Linked DNA regions of Homo sapiens: region 1 is linked to region 2. Evidence: fine-mapped expression QTL. A gene starts in region 2. The other region holds a variant in brackets. All regions are shown on one strand. Distances are from middle to middle.

The links.
Region 1: its variant is fine-mapped to the expression of TECPR1 in lung (TOPMed, PIP above 0.99). The same link has a PIP of 0.9 or more in nucleus accumbens, putamen, tibial artery and whole blood.

Annotation. Positions count from the first base shown.
Region 1 is chr7:98,213,090-98,221,354 of GRCh38, reverse strand. BHLHA15 (basic helix-loop-helix family member a15) reads right to left here. Exons shown (of 2, transcript NM_177455.4): 2 at 5,898-8,265. TECPR1 (tectonin beta-propeller repeat containing 1) reads left to right here. Exons shown (of 26, transcript NM_015395.3): 24 at 3,313-3,419; 25 at 3,544-3,663; 26 at 3,852-6,731. The coding sequence ends at 3,965. Among named protein-coding and RNA genes, the nearest start is that of BHLHA15, 5.8 kb to the right of the region's middle. RefSeq lists an enhancer at 3,010-3,069. The variant C/T (reference allele first, on the strand shown) is at 5,236.
Region 2 is chr7:98,247,454-98,255,774 of GRCh38, reverse strand. TECPR1 (tectonin beta-propeller repeat containing 1) reads left to right here and starts at 3,543. Exons shown (of 26, transcript NM_015395.3): 1 at 3,543-3,649; 2 at 4,227-4,381. LOC124901706 (a long non-coding RNA gene) reads right to left here and starts at 3,416. Exons shown (of 2, transcript XR_007060448.1): 1 at 3,247-3,416; 2 at 1-2,891. RefSeq lists enhancers at 144-438, 3,153-3,896 and silencers at 3,257-3,356, 3,447-3,836.

The sequences.
Region 1 (8,265 bases), 34 kb after region 2:
ACAAACAATCCAATTCTACTCTTTTAGTTATTATTGTTATTATTTTTTCTTTGAGATGGAGTTTCGCTCTTGTCTCCCAGGCTAGAGTGCAGTGGTGCAATCTCGGCTCACTGCAACCTCCACCTACTGAGTTCAAGCGATTCTCCTGCCTCAGCCTCCCAAGTAGCTGGGATTACAGACACGCACCACCACACCTGGCTAATTTTTATATTTTTAGTAGAGGCGGGGTTTCACCATATTGGCCAGGCTGGTCTCAAACTCCTGACCTCAAGTGACCTGCCCACCTCGGCCTCCCAAAGTGCTGGGATTACAGGTGTGAGCTACCGCGCCTGGCCCTCTTTCAGTTATTTTAAAATGTACCATTAGCCAGGCACAGTGGCTCATGCCTATAATTCCAGCACTTTGGGAGGCTGAGGTGGGCGGATCACTTGAGATCAGGAGTTTGAGACCAGCCTGGCCAACTTAGTGAAACCCATCTCTACTAAAAACACAAAAATTAGGCCAAGCGCGGTGGCTCACACCTGTAATCCCAGCACTTTGGGAGGCCGGAGCAGGCGGATCACAAGGTCAGGAAATCGAGACCATCCTGGCTAACAGTGAAACCCTGTCTCTACTAAAAATACAAAAAATTAGCTGGGCGTGGTGGCGGGTGCCTGTAGTCCAAGCTAATCGGGAGGCTGAGGCAGGAGAATGGCGTGAACCCCAGAGGCGGAGCTTGCAGTGAGCCGAGATTGCGTCACTGCACTCCAGCCTGGGTGACAGAGCGAGACTCCGTCTCAAAAAAAAAAAAGCCAGATGTGGTAGTGCGCACCTATAATCCCAGCTACTCAGGAGGCTGAGGCAGGAGAATCGCTTGAACCTGGGAGGAGGAGGATATTGATTGCAGTGAGCCAAGGCATGCCACTGCACTCCAGCCTGGGTGACAGAGCAAGACTCTGTCTCAAAAAATAAAATAAAAATAAAAATAAATAAAGTAAAATGTACCGTTAAAAAATTTTTTTTTTGTTTTTGAGACGGAATTTCATTCTTGTTGCCCAGGCTAGAGTACAGTGACATGATCTCGGCTTACTGCAACCTCCGCCTCCCAGGTTCAAGCGATTCTTCTGTCTCAGCCTCCCAAGTAGCTGGGATTACAGGTCCCTGCCATCATGCCTGGCTAATTTTTTTGTATTTTTAGTAGAGATGGGGTTTCGCCATGTTGGGCAGGCTGGTCTCGAACTCCTGACCTCAGGTGATCCGCCCACCTCCGCCTCCCTAAGTGCTGGGATTACAGGCATGAGCCACCGCGCCTGGCTGTGTTGTTTTTTGACTTTATAATAATGGCCAGTCTTGCAGAAATAAAGTGGTATTAATATCTCAGTGTGGTTTGGATTTGCATTTCTCAGATGATTAGTGGTGTTGAGCATTTTTTCATGTTTGTTGGTCATTTGTATATCTTCTTTTTTTTTAATTTGAGATGGAGTTCTGCTCTTGTTGCCCAGGCTGGAGTGCAGTGGTGCGATCTCGGCTCACTGCAACCTCTGCCTCCCAGGTTCAAGCGATTCTCCTACCTCAGCCTCCCGAGTAGCTGGGATTACAGCCATGCACCAACACACCCGGCTAATTTTGTATTTTTAGTAGAGATGGGGTTTCTCTGTGTTGGTCAGGCTGGTCTCGAACTCTCAACCTCAGGTGATCCGCCTGCCTTGGCCTCCCAAAGTGCTGGGATTAAAGGCATGAGCCACCGCGCCCAGCCGCATATCTTCTTTTGAGAAATGTCTATTCATGTCATTTGGCCACTTTTGGATGGGATTATTGGTTTTTTGTTTTTTGTGTGTGTGCTGATTTGTTTGAGTCCTTCTAGATTCTGGTTATGAGTCCTTTGTCAGTTGCATAGTTTGCAAATATTTCCTCCTATCCTGTGGGTTTTCTGTTTACTCTGATGATTATTTCTTTTGCTCTGCAGAAACTTTTTAGTTTAATTAGGGCTCCTTTATTTTTGTTTTTGTTGCATTTGCTTTTGGAATCTTAGTCAGAAATCCTTTGCCCAGGCAAAGCCCTTGAATAGTTTTTCCTAGGTTTTTTTTATAGAATTTGTATGGTTTTAGGTCTAGATGTAAGTGTTTGATTCATCTTGAGTTGTTTTTTTAATATGGTGAGAGATACGGATCCAGTTTCATTATTCTACATGCGACTATCCAGTTTACCCAGCACCATTTATTGTATAAAGTGTCCTTTCCCCAGTTTATGCTTTTGTATGCTTTCTCAAAGATCAATTGGTTGTGGGTATCTGGCTTTATTTCTTGGTTCTCTCTTCTGTTCCACTGGTCTATGTGTCTATTTTTATAGCAGCACCATGCTGTTTTTGTTACTGTAGGCTTGTAGTATAATTTGAAGTCCAGTAATGTGATGCCTCCAGATTTGTTCTTTTTGGTTAGAATTGCTTTGGGCATTGAGGCTCTTTGTGGGTTCCATATTAATTTTAGGATTTTTTTTTCTAATTCTGTAAAAAATGATGACAGTATTTTAATAGGAATTGCATTGAATCTGTAGATTGCTTTGGGCAGTATGATCATTTTCATGATATTGATTCTTCCACTGATTCATCCCATACTCATCAATCCATGAATATGGGATGTATTTCCATTTGTTTCTGTCATCTATGATTTCTTTCAGCAGTGTTTTGTAGTTCTCCTTATAGAGATCTTTCACCTCCTTGGTTAAGTACATTCCCAGGTATTTTATGTTATTTTTTGCAGCTGTTGTAAAAGGGGTTAATTTGATTCTCAGCCTGGTTGCTGCTGGCATGTAGCAGTGCTACTAATTTGTGTGCATTGATTTTGTAACCTGAGACTTTCCTGAACTCATATGTCAAATCTAGGAGTCTTTTGGAGGCGTCTTTAGGGTTTTCTAGGTATTTGATCCTATCATGGGCAAACAGACACACCGTGACTTCCTCTTTTTCGATTTGGATGCCCTTTCTTTCTTTCTCTTGCCTGATTGCTCTGGCTAGGACTTCCCTTGTCCATAGTTTCTGCCTCAGCAGAAAGAGGATCAGGAGGCCGGCCGTGCCCAGCACAATAGGGCGATTATGAGGCTCGGGGGACGCCCCGAGTGTGCAGAAGGCGGAGCTGGCTGCAGCCCAGGCTCCTGAGTGTGGAGAAGCGGAGGAGGCTGTGGCCCTGACTCAGGGGCCAGGACCCTCCTGCCTCCCCAGCAGCTTCCCAAACCCCGAAGTGGTTAGAGCGGGGCCTGGCCACCGGCTGCCGGGCCGCACGGGCAGGAGGGGCCGGGAAGGTCTTCCCCTTTGACCCTCACTGCTTTTCTCCCCAGGAAACCTGTGGTATCGCCAAGGGATCACGCCCAGCTACCCGCAGGGCTCCAGCTGGGAGCACGTGTCCAACAACGTGTGCCGAGTGTCCGTGGGGCCCCTGGACCAGGTGGGGGTGCTCAGGGGGTATCGGGCACTTGGGGTGCTCTGGTTCCCTCTCTGGTCTCCCCCATCCCATGCCCAGCCGTCCCACTGCAGGTAGGGCTGAGGGCTTCATGGGGTCTGTGCTCCAGGTCTGGGTGATCGCCAACAAAGTGCAGGGCAGCCACAGCCTGAGCCGGGGGACAGTGTGTCATCGCACCGGCGTGCAGCCTCACGAGCCCAAGGGCCACGGCTGGGACTACGGCATCGGGGTGAGCGGGGCCCGCGGCCTTGGGCTGTGTTATCACCTTGTGCCTGCACTGGGTGCTGAAGACGGGACGACCACTGTGGGACTGTCCCCTGGGACCCGGTGTCTGGGTTGCAGGGAGGCCCCCAGGCAGATCCCCTCCAGGATCCTCGAGTCCCCGAGTCCCCTGGTGACACAGCTCTCTCCTTCCAGGGAGGCTGGGACCATATCTCTGTCCGGGCCAATGCCACCAGGGCCCCCCGGAGCTCGTCCCAGGAGCAGGAGCCGAGTGCCCCACCAGAGGCCCATGGCCCCGTCTGCTGCTGAGGCCCCCCCACACACCTACATGCAGGGACGGTGCCCAGTTTGGGGGATCAAGGCTGAGCCATTCTTGTGCTGGAGTGTGCACCGTGGGAGCAATGTGGCCCAGGTGGACTCAGGAGGGAACCTGGCCCCAAGGCTGCGGCCACTTCAGAGGCACTGGCTGAGACGGCCCTGAAATGTGAAGCTCCGCGGACACTCCCACACGTGTCCCCGTCTGCGAGGAGTCCCGGGGTGTGGGGCATGGGGTGGGGCTGCACCTCCCAGAGGCCCCTCCCACCCTTCCCTTCCCCTCTCCCTTCTGCCTTTCCAGGACTAGAACCGGGAACCTGGAGCCCTCCGGGAACGCCGGCCCTGGGGCAGCAGAGCCAGGATGGAGCCCTCCTGAGCTGGCATCTCAGACAGCACCCGGGCCCGCCACCCCTCACCAAGAGAGATGGCCATGGGGCTCAGGGCCTCTTTACCATGTGCAGTGACCATTTCTCAGAGCAGGACTTGCAAAGAGGCTTTAATTTCAAAAGTGAAGGAAGGAGGCCAGGCGCCGTGGCTCACGCCTGTAATCCCAGCACTTTGGGAGGCTGAGGTGGGCAGATCACCTAGGTCAAGAGTTTCAAACCAGACGGGCCAACATGGTGAAACCCCATCTCTGCTAAAAATACAAAAAAAAAAAAATTAGCTGGGCATGGTGGTGGGTGCCTGTAATCCCAGCTACTCGGGAGGCTGAGGCAGGAGAATCGTTTGAACCCGGGAGGCGGAGGCTGCAGTGAGCCGAGATCATGCCACTGCACTCCAGCCTGGGCGACAGAGACTCCATCTCAAAAAAAAAAAAAAAAAAAAGTGAAGGAAGGAGACAGCAGATTGGAAATAACACTGGAGTGGATGGGATGTCCTCTTCCCTGAGGGGGCCGGGGTACCAGACGGGAGGCTGGGAGAGGATGAGAGGCTGCCCCATGGCTGGAGGCAGTGTCCGTGTGTGCAGTCACCATCATCAACCCCCATTCGGCCCCTTCCCCAGATGCGCTGGTGACAGGGGCTTCTTGGATGTCAAATCATGTTGTAGGAGGGTGCAGACTGCGGGCTTCTGTGGGGAGCAGTACTACTGTGTCTGTCGGCAGTGGCCATGGGACCCTCAGCCCGTCCTGTACATGGAGCAGGGTGCACAGTCACCCTCCATCCTGTGGCGAGAGGCTGGCCCGGCCCGGCCAGGCGAGGCAGAAGGTGTCGGCCAAGTGGCCCCGACCCCATCCCGCAGTCTCTCAGCTGCTTTTTATTACCT[C/T]TGTGCCCCATTTGGGAGTTTGCTTCCTCCACCTGGACACTTTGCCCGGGAGGTCATCAGAGCCCAACCCCAGGCTCTGCTCGGTTGGAGAGGGGATGACTTCACCACCACCTGACCTTCCTAGGGTCCTGGTCTCACTGTCAGCTGGGGGTCCGTTGTGTGTATTTGTACAGTTTTGCTGTATGGGGTTTGTCACCCAAAAGCTGATGCTGAGAAAGGCCTCCCTGGGGCCCCTCCCGCGGGCATCTGAGAGACCTGGTGTTCCAGTGTTTCTGGAAATGGGTCCCAGTGCCGCCGGCTGTGAAGCTCTCAGATCAATCACGGGAAGGGCCTGGCGGTGGTGGCCACCTGGAACCACCCTGTCCTGTCTGTTTACATTTCACTATCAGGTTTTCTCTGGGCATTACGATTTGTTCCCCTACAACAGTGACCTGTGCATTCTGCTGTGGCCTGCTGTGTCTGCAGGTGGCTCTCAGCGAGGTACGGGGAGGGCGTCACCCTGCAGAACGGCAGAGTGACGCGTCCTCTCGCTGCTGAGCACCAGCTGTTTACCTGCCCTGCATCACTTCCTCGGATACTTTACTCAATAAGCATTTCCCCTGGAGTGTCCGTGCCCTGGTGTTTTTTATCGATACGTTGATTAAAACGCGTGGTTCCCCGTGTGCCTGAAGCAGACATTGCTGTGAAATCTTTTATTTTTGTTTTATGACACAGCATCAATTTCATGAATACTTTGAAAGGGCCATTAGAAAAAATAAGAGCCAATTTGGGTCATTTGAGAAACATTTTCAGCACAATTACAGTGGGGGCACGGGCCGTTCGGCTCCAGCTGGGTTTTCCCAGATGCAACAATCGCGGTTCTGGCTTCTCCACTGGTGGGGATGGGGATCGCGCCTTCGGAGCTCTCAGGGCGCCTGTCTGTCGGGGGCTGGGTGCGTCCACAGCCCCGGGGGATGGCGCGTGGCGTAGCCCAGGAACGGCATGTGGGTGGGTCTCTGACCTGCTTGTGCAGGGACTTGAGGGACCTCATCCCGATGGCCGAGGCAGGGGCTCCCCACGGGATAAAAGGATCCGGCCTGGCCTTGGGGTCCAAGAGGAGGGCCAAGGGAGTGGACCTGGCCCCTGTCCCCTCTCCTCCTCGAAACACTGGACACCCTGAAGCGAGACTATGGCTGCTGAGGATCCTGTGTGATGTGGCCGCGGGGCGTCCCCTCTGGCCTCAGGGGAAGAAGGACTGGGCGGCTCGGCCCAGGTCACCCTCTAGGAAGCAGAGGAGGTGCAGGTGCCAGTTCAGGGCAGAAAGAAAGAGCCACTGAGGCCATTGTCCTGAAGGCGGTGACCCCCAGGCACTCCTGCTGCCCCCCAGGAAGCCCTGGGCTGCGCTGGACACCGGGCCGAGTCTCCGTCTTCTGGACCGAGGCTCTTCTGGGCTTTCAGGCTCAGCTCGTCGGTCCATTCAGCAAGTTCAGGGGCAGACTGAGCCCTGCTCTGGCCATGGCTCAGCCGGAAACAAGAGCTGCCATGTTCGTAGCACCTGAGTACCCCCGCCGGGGAGGTCTCTGTCATCTCATGTCCCCGCTGGGCAGGTGCCCCACAGCAGGGGAGCCCTGGGCTCTCTCTGTCCCAAGCTCCCAGCTGCATCCAACCTCAGCTCACAGTTGTGGATCACCCTGACCTTCCAGAGTGCCCCTCCCAAGGGGCAGACCCAGCATCCTGGAGTCCCCACCCCGAGCTGTGCTGAAGGACAGCTGGGGCGGTAGGGCCAGGACCAGACCAGGCCTCTGACAAAGTCTCATCGAAATGAAACCAATGTGCCCGGGCCACCTTAAGGGGCCCTGACCAGGAAAGTTAGGCCTGAAGCTGCCAATGCCAGATCCTCAGGGTGTTACCTGTGTCCTTACGTGGCTAGGCCTGACCCCAAGTGCCACAACCCCCAACTTGGGGAGGGCAGGGCCACCTGGTGGGGACGGGCCAGCCAGAGCCCTTGGTCTCAGCTGTGGCAGCCACATCCCTGGCCCGGCTTGGCCCTGAGGGCCTTTGGGACATCTCTGGGCAGAGGCATGAGGGAGGGGAGAGTCCAGTAGCCAAGTCCGGCAGAGCCAGTGGGGCAGGAACGCCCAGCAGAAGGAAGCTGGGCTTGGGGCAGCAGAGACGTGCCAAGCCACCAGGCCTGGCCATGAGGATGAAGCACCTGGGCGGGGGAAGGGACGTACCTGCCACCCCAAGGCTCCACCAGGCAGAGAGACCCAACGGGCTGCCAACTCAAACCAGAACCCAAGCACGTCATAATGTCCTACAGACAGCATGGTGCCAATTATATGATAACCCCACATCAGTGAGAATAAGTAACGGCGGTGGCAGGGGCTGGGTGGGGGGCACACTCGCTCCCCACACAGGCCAGGGCTGAGCAGGAGGCCTCAGAGCTGCTCTTGGGGAGCAACCCAGGGCCTTGGGGCTTCTCTCCCATGCCCAGAAGGGCTGCACCAGGAACACCCAGCCCTGTCTCCTGCTCCAGTTCCACAGCACCCCTCACACCCTGCCCCAGACCCTCCACAACCAGGCACAGCCTGGAGTCAACACATCCAGGAGCCCCAACTTGGGAGGAGGGAGGAAGAGACTCCAGCCCCTCCCCACCATTCAACTTTTAAGGATGAATTGGAGGTCATCTGATTAGAGTTTCTGGCAGCTCCAATCATCTCTGATTGGCCCCACTCCCCGAGCAGCCTTAGGCTCTGCCGGGCTTGTCCCGGGCCTCAGTTTACCCCAAATGAGGATGCTGAGCCCAGGCCCCATGTAGCCCTATAACAAAGGTTGGAGAGGGGGTCCTTGCTGGGGCTTTGGCCTTGGAAAACCTGCAGGTAAACCTTTTCCTGGGATCTCCCCTTGCCCAGAAGTCAGGGTGAAGAGACGTTAGTTCCAAGGCTAAGGAGGCCTTTCAACTCGGGCTGAGACTGCCTGGCTCAATGAAAAATCAGGATCCAACTGGGCCCTACCTAGAGGTTTGGGCCTCACGCCGCTGTCCAGGGCCAC
Region 2 (8,321 bases):
AGGCAGGAGAATCACTTGAACCCAGGAGGCGGAGGTTGCAGTGAGCCAAGACCGCGCCACTGCACTCCAGCCTGGGCGACAGAGACTCCATCTCAAATAAGATAATAATAATAATAATAAATAAAAAATAAAAGAAAGTAAAGGAATAAAAGAATGACTACTCCACAGCCAGAGCAGCAGCATGAGCTGCTGGACTGAGTATACTTATAGTTATTTCTTGGTTCTATGGTAAACAAGGGGTGGATTATTCATGAGTTTTCCAGGAAAGCAGAGGGCAATTCCTGGAACTAAGGTTTCCCCTCCTTTTCAGACCATATAGGGTAACTTCCTGACGTTGCCATGGCATCTATAAACTGTCACAGCACCGGTAGGAGTGTCTTTTAGCATGCTAATGTATTATAATTAGAGTATAATGAGCGGTGAGGACAACCAGAAGTCACTTTCATCACCATCGTGGTTTTGGCTGGCTTCTTTACCGCATCCTCTTCTATCAGCAGGGGCTTTGTGACCTGTATCTTGTGATACCAAACCTGCTGACCTCCTATTTCATCCTGTGACCAAGAATGCCCAACCTCCTGGGGATGGAGCCCAGCAGTTCTCAGCCTCATTTTACCCAGCCCCTGTTCAAGATGGAGTCGCTCGGGTTCAAACACTTCTGACCCTTGTACTGTGGCACTGACCTGATCAATGTATCCTACTGTGAAAGGAAAATAAATCTCGGGACCCCAAGATCACTACGCCAAAGAGAAAAGTCAAGCTGAGGGTCGCATCAGACAAACCTGCCTCCCGTTTTATTCTTCAATAAGATAGCTAGAAAGTTCAAAAGAGCTACATACCCCCCTCACAATTTCTCCACAAGCAAATTCCTTTCGGGCCTCAAGATCTTTGCCCTAAAACAGTTCTGATGAATTTTCCCTGGCAATGTAAATTGATAGCTTATCTTCACAGGTACAATGCAGAAAGTCAGCCCTCCGCTCACTGAAGACAAATGCATATGTGATTTCTTCCTCTGTCCTATTGTTTATACAAAATGCAGATTCACTGAGCCAGACAGTGAGTAAGGCATATGTGACTATTCCTCTACCCACTCTCACATGTAAATTGTGTATTCAGTGAAAGGCTGATCACAGACTCAAAAGAAAGCAAACTTTTGGCCGGGCATGCTGGCTCACGCCTATAATCCCAGCACTTTGGGAGGCTGAGATGGGTGGATTACCTGAGGTCAGGAGTTCAAGACCAGCCTGGCCAACATGGTGAGATCCTGTCTCTACTAAAAATAAAAAAATTAGCCTGGCGTGGTGGCACACACCTGTAGTCCCAGCTACTCAGGAGGCTGAGAAAGGAGAATCGCTTGAACCTGGGAGGTGGAGGTTGCAGTGAGCTGAGATCTCACCACTGCACTGCAGCCTGGGTGACAGAGTGAGACTCCCTCTCAAAAAAAAAAAAAAAAAAAAAGAACTCGGGATAGGGGGACATGGGTCCCCAAGCCCCTGAATTCAGGAAAACTATATTGAACTTTGTCACCACACATGAAAACTGCAAGGGGCCACAGAAAGCTCCTAATTCAATGCCTCTTTTTCATTTTTTTTCAATGCCTCTTTTAATGTGGAAACTAAAGCTAAAGAGGAGATAAATGGCTACAGAGTGTCACAGGCAGGACAGAACCCAGGGCTCCCTACCTCTAGACTGTTTCTCCAGCAGTCTAGCGACCACTCATCCTCCTTTTTTTTTTTTTTTTTTTTTTTTGAGACAGAGTTTTGCTCTGTTGCCCAGGCTGGAGTGTAGTGGCACAATCTCAGCTCACTGCAAGCTCCGCCTCCTGGGTTCACCTCATTATCCTGCCTCAGCCTCCCGAGTAGCTGGGACTACAGGCGCCCGCCACCACGCCCGGCTAATTTTTTGTGTTTTTAGTAGAGACGGTGTTTCACCATGTTAGCCAGGATGGTCTCATCTCCTGACCTCATGATCCACCCGCCTCGGCCTCCCAAAGGGCTGGGATTACAGGCGTGAACCACTGCGCCCGGCCCACTCATCGTCCTTCTGCTAATAGCACCCTGATCTTCCTCTGAGGAGCCACCCCCTGTGCCTGGCTGAGCCCTTATGCTTGAGGGGGGCTCTGCCCACATCTCCAGACCAAGTCCACAAATGCCAGTCCCTCAGGCCCAAGCTAAAGTCAGGGTCAGACACAGGACTCCACAGAGCCATCCGGGGTGAACAAGAGGCTTCTGGGGGCGTTTTCTTCCACTGGAGCTGGCCTGTGTGGGGCTTCCCCAAACATGAAGGCCCAGGAAAAGCCTGTGTGCAACCCCAGAAATGAGACAGAACTAGAGGGGGAGCAGGAATAGGTCCCTAGGTCCAACCAGGTGACATTGGTTTAGCTCAATGTCGGGTAGTATCTAGCCTTCCATCAGATGCCCTTTTTTTTCTTTTTTGAGAAGGAGTTTTGCTCTTGTCGCCCAGGCTGTAGTGCGGTGGCACAGTGGCACGATCTCAGCTCACTGCAACCTCCACCTCCCCAGTTCAAGCGATTTTCCTGCCTCAGTCTCCCGAGTAGCTGAGATTACAGGCATGCGCCACCACCCCTGGCTAATTTTGCATTTTTACTAGAGACGGGGTTTCACCATCTTGGCCAGGCTGGTCTCAAACCCCTGACCTCAAGTGATCCGCCCGCCTTGGCCTCCCAAAGTGCTGGGATTACAGGTATGAACCGCCGCACCTGGCCGACATCTTTCTTTTTTCTCCTTTCTCCATCCTAACCTTGCCAGTTTTCTGCCAGGCGGGATACAGTGTTTTCAAATCCCAGTTCCATCGCTTACAACGTGAGTCGCTCCATCTCTGAGCCCGTGTTCGCATTTGTAAAATGGGAATGACGCCGCCAGCTCTTTGGGTTGCTGGGAGGATGAAATGAGAAGACCCAAGTAAAGCACTTACGTCAGTGCCCGCCACCCCGGGAGGACTCGCATATTACTATTAATATATTAGGCCAGCTTACACTGGGTTTTGTCACTGACAATAGAGTTTGAGCAATCCAGGGCCTGTTACTGACACCACACCATGCTATAGTCACAAAATCACATATGCTTCCAGGACTCCTCCTCGAAAGAGTAAAGCTTTAAGTGTAGTGTGTGCTCAAGGGCTACGTTTCAGTTCGATGGATACCAGGAAGACACCTGTTCCCTGCGTCCTCTCCACGCCCCAGGCCGGGCGCCCACACCCTGCTCCTCCTGACGCCGCACAGCCACGCACCCAGGTACCCTCTCCGCCACCCCTTCTCCTCGCCTGCAGGCGGTGTCCACACCGCCCTCTCCGCTCCTGCAGACCGGGTCCTGGAGGGCGGCCGGGCGGTCCACGGGCCGGTGTCGCGCCGCCAGAGAGAACGCGGCAACTCGCTTCAGCCGACTCTGGACTCCTGACCTGGCGCGACCCCGGAAGTGGGCGGGCGCGCGACCTCGAAGCCAGCACCGACGCGGCGCACCGCAGCCAATCGCACGTCCCAGGTCGCAGCGTCCTGGCGAGGCTGGCCAATGGGCACGGGGCCTGATGCCGCTTCCGGCCCACCCTCTTGCCCGGTCCCCGGGAGGGCCGGTCCGCTCCTCCCGGACGCCGAGGACCTACCACCGCGACTTCGCCCCGCCCGGCGCGGGCCCAGGTGAGTGCAGAGTGGCGCCCCAGCTGCAGCGGCGGCCAGGGCCGTGGGAAAGAATGGGGCGATGAAGGGCTGGGCACGCCGCCTTCCCCACCACCCCCAGGCTGTTTGCTCGCGGGGAGGGAGGAAGGAGGGACCGCACTTGTCATCTCGCCTGCACACCTGGAAGGTGCCGCCCCCGTCCCCTGCCCTGGAACGCCCACAGGCTAGCGAAGTTGCCTGGTGCAGGTGACGCCCCCATTCCAGCCTTTGGACTGGAGCCATAGGAGAAGCGGATCGCGGGATCCTGGTTGTTTTCGAGAATCACGCAGCAAGGGGCCTGCCTATCCCTCTCCCTGGGTATTGATGGGAGCAAATCTGCTTGTCGTAAGATTAGCTTTGGCAGATGGTCAGGGCCCAGAGCTCCGACATATGCTACTGGTGGCAGTGCAGGGGCCCCACCTGTCACCCAAGTGCACAGCACTGGGCTGAACGCCAGGCTGACTCAGGACACCTCCTGCCCGGTGGGGCTGGGCGGACCCTATTCTTCAGGAAAGAATCAACTACCATGCAAGTTCTGCTGCTTTTTCCCACCTTTTAGGACCCTGATGTCGCTTTTGAACAGCCCCTGCACCTGGCAGCCAGCGAGCTACTGTAGTAGGCATTGCCGACTGTTTGCATACCGGATGGGAGTGACAGTGTAATAGAAAAACAAGCAAGAAACCTTTTAGGTAGGACTCCTAAGGCTCAGAGGAAGTAAGTGCTTGCGGAGCGTTCTTTGTACTGTGTCTTTTCCTCTACCACATCTCTGTCCCCGCCTCTCTTGGGTGCTTTTTTTGGTCTCTGAAAGGATCTGTGAATAAACTGAGACAGAAAGGCAGATGGCTTTGAGGGTGGCGAGCAGACCTTCTTCGTGGAAAGACTGAAGGTTCAACTCAAATTCATCTTGTAGAAATTCTTGGTGAATTCGAGGCTGCTGATTTGGAAGATTTTCCTCCATCCCTCTAACCCTACAAAACAAACAAGTCCCAGGATCCCTGAATCATGGGGCTTCATGTTCCAACCCCCCTTTCAAGAGTCCTCTGACCCAGTGACCCTGTGTAAGTTGCCTGATCAGCTCACAGCCAGAAAGTGGCCCATGAGGAGCTAGGGGGAGCCTCTTGGCAGAGGCAGAAAGAAAGTGTGGCTGACCAAGGATGGTTACCGGATGTCAACTGTAGCTAGGAAGTGACGACAGGTGCCTGGGTCTCTACTCTGAAGGGAGTTTGTAAATACAGCAACCCCCCACCCCTCCCTTTCACTGTAGCAGAGTCTTCTCCCATTAACTGCCCAGAAGATTCAATGATGTCTATGAGGAAATTAGTGCTTAGTCATTTATTTGAAGGAAAGTCAAAATCTCCTTTCATTGAGCTCAACCTGCAGACTGAGTCTAGCTAAACTGCTTGCTTATCCAGTGAATTCTGAGCTATCTTTGTTTTGTTGTTGTTGTTGTTGTTGTTTGTTTTCCTTTTTGAGACAGGGTCTCGCTCTGCTGCCCAGGCTGGAGTGCAGTGGCACAATCATAGCTCACTGTAGCCTCAAACTCCTGGGCTCAAGTGATCCTCCTGCCTCAGCCTCCCAAGTAGCTAGGATCACAGGCATGTGCCACCACACCTGGCTAATTTTTTTTTTAACTTTTTATTTTTACAGAGATGGGGTCTCCCTGTGTTGCTTAGGCTGGTTTTGAACTCCTCGGCTCAAGCGATCCTCCCACCTCAGCCCCGGAAAGGGCTGGGATTACAGGCATGAGCTACTGCACCTGGCCTCTGAGCTATCTTTGAAGGCTAACTTATATTTAACACTATAGAAAGTGACAATTAAAAAAAAAAACCTTCGTCTTCCCCTAGCATTTTATTGAGGATTTTCCCACATACAGCCAAGTTGAAAGAATTATACAGTCAGCATCCCCATCCCCACCAACTAGATTCTACTATTGACACTTTACTTGCTTTATCACATATCTGTCCACCAATTATGACCTTACTTTTCAAGTTATTTGTGGCATTTGTTTTCCCTGGAGAAGTATTTCTGTCTTAGATCAGGGAGTTGGCAGTGTGTTGGAGGTAGGTGGTGGTGATTATCCTTAAATGTTGTTTCAACACCCACTGTGTGCAGAGACTATTATGGAAATGAAGAGGCTGAAGACTCAGACCTGAAAGGGACTTGGTTTTTTGTTTTTCTTTTTTTTTTTTTGAGATGGAGTCTTGCTGTGTTGGCCAGGCTGGAGTGTGGTGACACGATCTTGGCTCACTACAATCTCCTCCTACCAGGTTCAAGCGATTCTCCTGCCTCAGCCTCCCAAGCCGGCTAATTTTTGTAGTTTTAGTAGAGACGGGTTTCACCGTGTTGGCCAGGCTGGTCTCAAACTCCTGGCCTCAAGCAATCTGCCCGCCTTGGCCTCCCAAAGTGTTGGGATTACAGGCATGAGCCACCACGCCCAGCCCTATTCTGCCTTTTATAGATTAGGAAATTAAGGCACAGAGAGGTTAGTTAGCTTTTGGTGGTACAAGAAAGTGAGGATCCCAGAATGCAGCATTCTGAGATCCAGGCAGCTCTGGACTCTCTTAGTCACTGTGAAGGTGCCAGAGGGACCCTCAGTCCTGATCAGTGAGGCACGAAGGGGTCACCAGGGGTCCCAGCTCAGTTTCAGATGGTTCCAGAAAGCTGGTGTTCTGATTTTCTCATATGTTTGACGGGCCTTGGTGTCCTGGGATGGAGGGGGTCAGCTGCTCTGGGAGGGGCTCTTACTCCCCGGGCTTCCTCCATTCTGCTGGGCAGTCTCCCTCCTATTCTTTTCCCCCACTTCCTGTTATGGGAGTTTCCCAGAGCTGAGCTTTTGTTCTGCTTCCTGTCTTCCTGTTCCTCACCCTCTCACTCACTTCCTTCTCAACCTGCAATCTGTCTTCTTGGTGTTTGTAAGATATACCTTGTCCCAGCCAGGGCCAGGGGCTCCTGCCTGTAATCGTAGCACTTTGGGACGGATCACCTGAGGCCAGGAGTTCGAGACCAGCCTGGCCAAAGTGGCAAAACCCCATCTCTACTAAAAATACAAAAATGGGCCAGATGTGGTGGTGCAGGTCTGTAATCCCAGCTACTTGGGAGGCTGAGGCAGGAGAATCACTTGAACCCAGAAGGTGGAAGTTTCAGTGAGCTGTGATTATGCCACTGCACTCCAGCCTGGGAGTAGAGGAAGACTCTGTCAAAAAAAAAAAAAAAAGATGCACCTTGTCCCCAAAGAGCCTAGTTTTTTGTTTTGTTTTTTTTTGAGACGGAGTCGCACTCTGTCATCCAGGCTGGAGTGCAGTGGTGCAATCTCGGCTCTCTGCAACCTCCACCTCCTGGTTCCAGCGATTCTCCTGCCTCAGTCTCCTGAGTAACTGAGATTACAGGCACGCGCCACTGTGCCTGGCTAATTTTCACCTTTTTTTTTCAGTAAAGATGGAGTCTCACCATGCTGGCCAGGCTGGTCTCAAACTCCTGGCATCAGGTGATCCATCCGCCTTGGCCTCCCAAAGTGCTGGGTTTACAGGTGTGAGCCACCACACCTGGCTTTTTTTTTTTTTTTTTTTTTTTTTTTGCCGGTGGCAGCTGCTCCTCTTTTCAGACATGCTTCTATCTCGTGCCATCGTCACAGTCACCCGGCCGTCTGGAGCACCCGCATGGCTCTGGTATGCTGCGGGAGCACTGGGCCCAGCCTCCAGGCACCTAAATAAACTCTGCCTGTCTCCTTTTGCTCCGGTTTTTAAGTCAGACTGGCCATGTCTTCATCTGTAGGCTCTTTCCTCTCTTCAGGCCCCGGGCCAGTGTCCTGGGTTGGATCTAGGAGCCGCCCTGTCGGGCAGAGCTTCTCAGGTGATGGCCCTGGTGGCTTCATCCAGTAGCTCTGTGTTTGGCTGCCTTGTGTGTGGCCATGTGGCCCTGCCACGGTGGAAAGACTGTTCCTATCAGGAGCCAGGACTCCAGGAAGGACACCCCTGGGTGCAACAGCACTATGGGCCCTGGAGGTGGGGCCAGGGGTGGTCAGTGGCAGAGCTTAGCAATAGCCTTGGCTATGCCTACAAAGCACAGAGAAAGAAGAGAGAAAGGGCTGGGTGCAGTGGCTCACGTCTATAATCCCAGCGCTTCGGGAGGCCAAGGTGGGAGGATCGCTTGAGGCCAGGAGTTCAAGACCAGCCTGGGCAACATAGCGAGACCCCATCTCTACAAAAAAAATTTTAAAAATTAGCCAGGTACGGTGGCACATGCCTGTAGTCCCAGCCACTCAGGAGGCTGAGGCAGGAGGATGGCTTGAGTTCAGGAGTTCAAGGCTGCAGTGAGCTATGATTGCACCACTGTACTCCAGTCTGGACAACAGAGCAAGATACTCTCTTAAAAAATAAAAAAGAAAAGAAAAGAAAAAGAAAGGAGTAGAGAATGGCAGAAGAAGAGAGCCGGGGGAAGAGGAGGAAGGAGTCACTGAGGGCGCATGAAGAAAAGACCCCTACGTCCCTGAATTCACATGGTCACGTTGGCTCTCAACGTGCCCTCATTATGCCCAGATAGAGGCCAACATGGCGGGGAGACCTGCCCACTCTGGGGAAGGACCCCTGGGGAAGTAGTGGGGTAGTTATATCTTTCGAGATTCAACTAAACCTGTAAGCTTTCATTGATTCTTTTG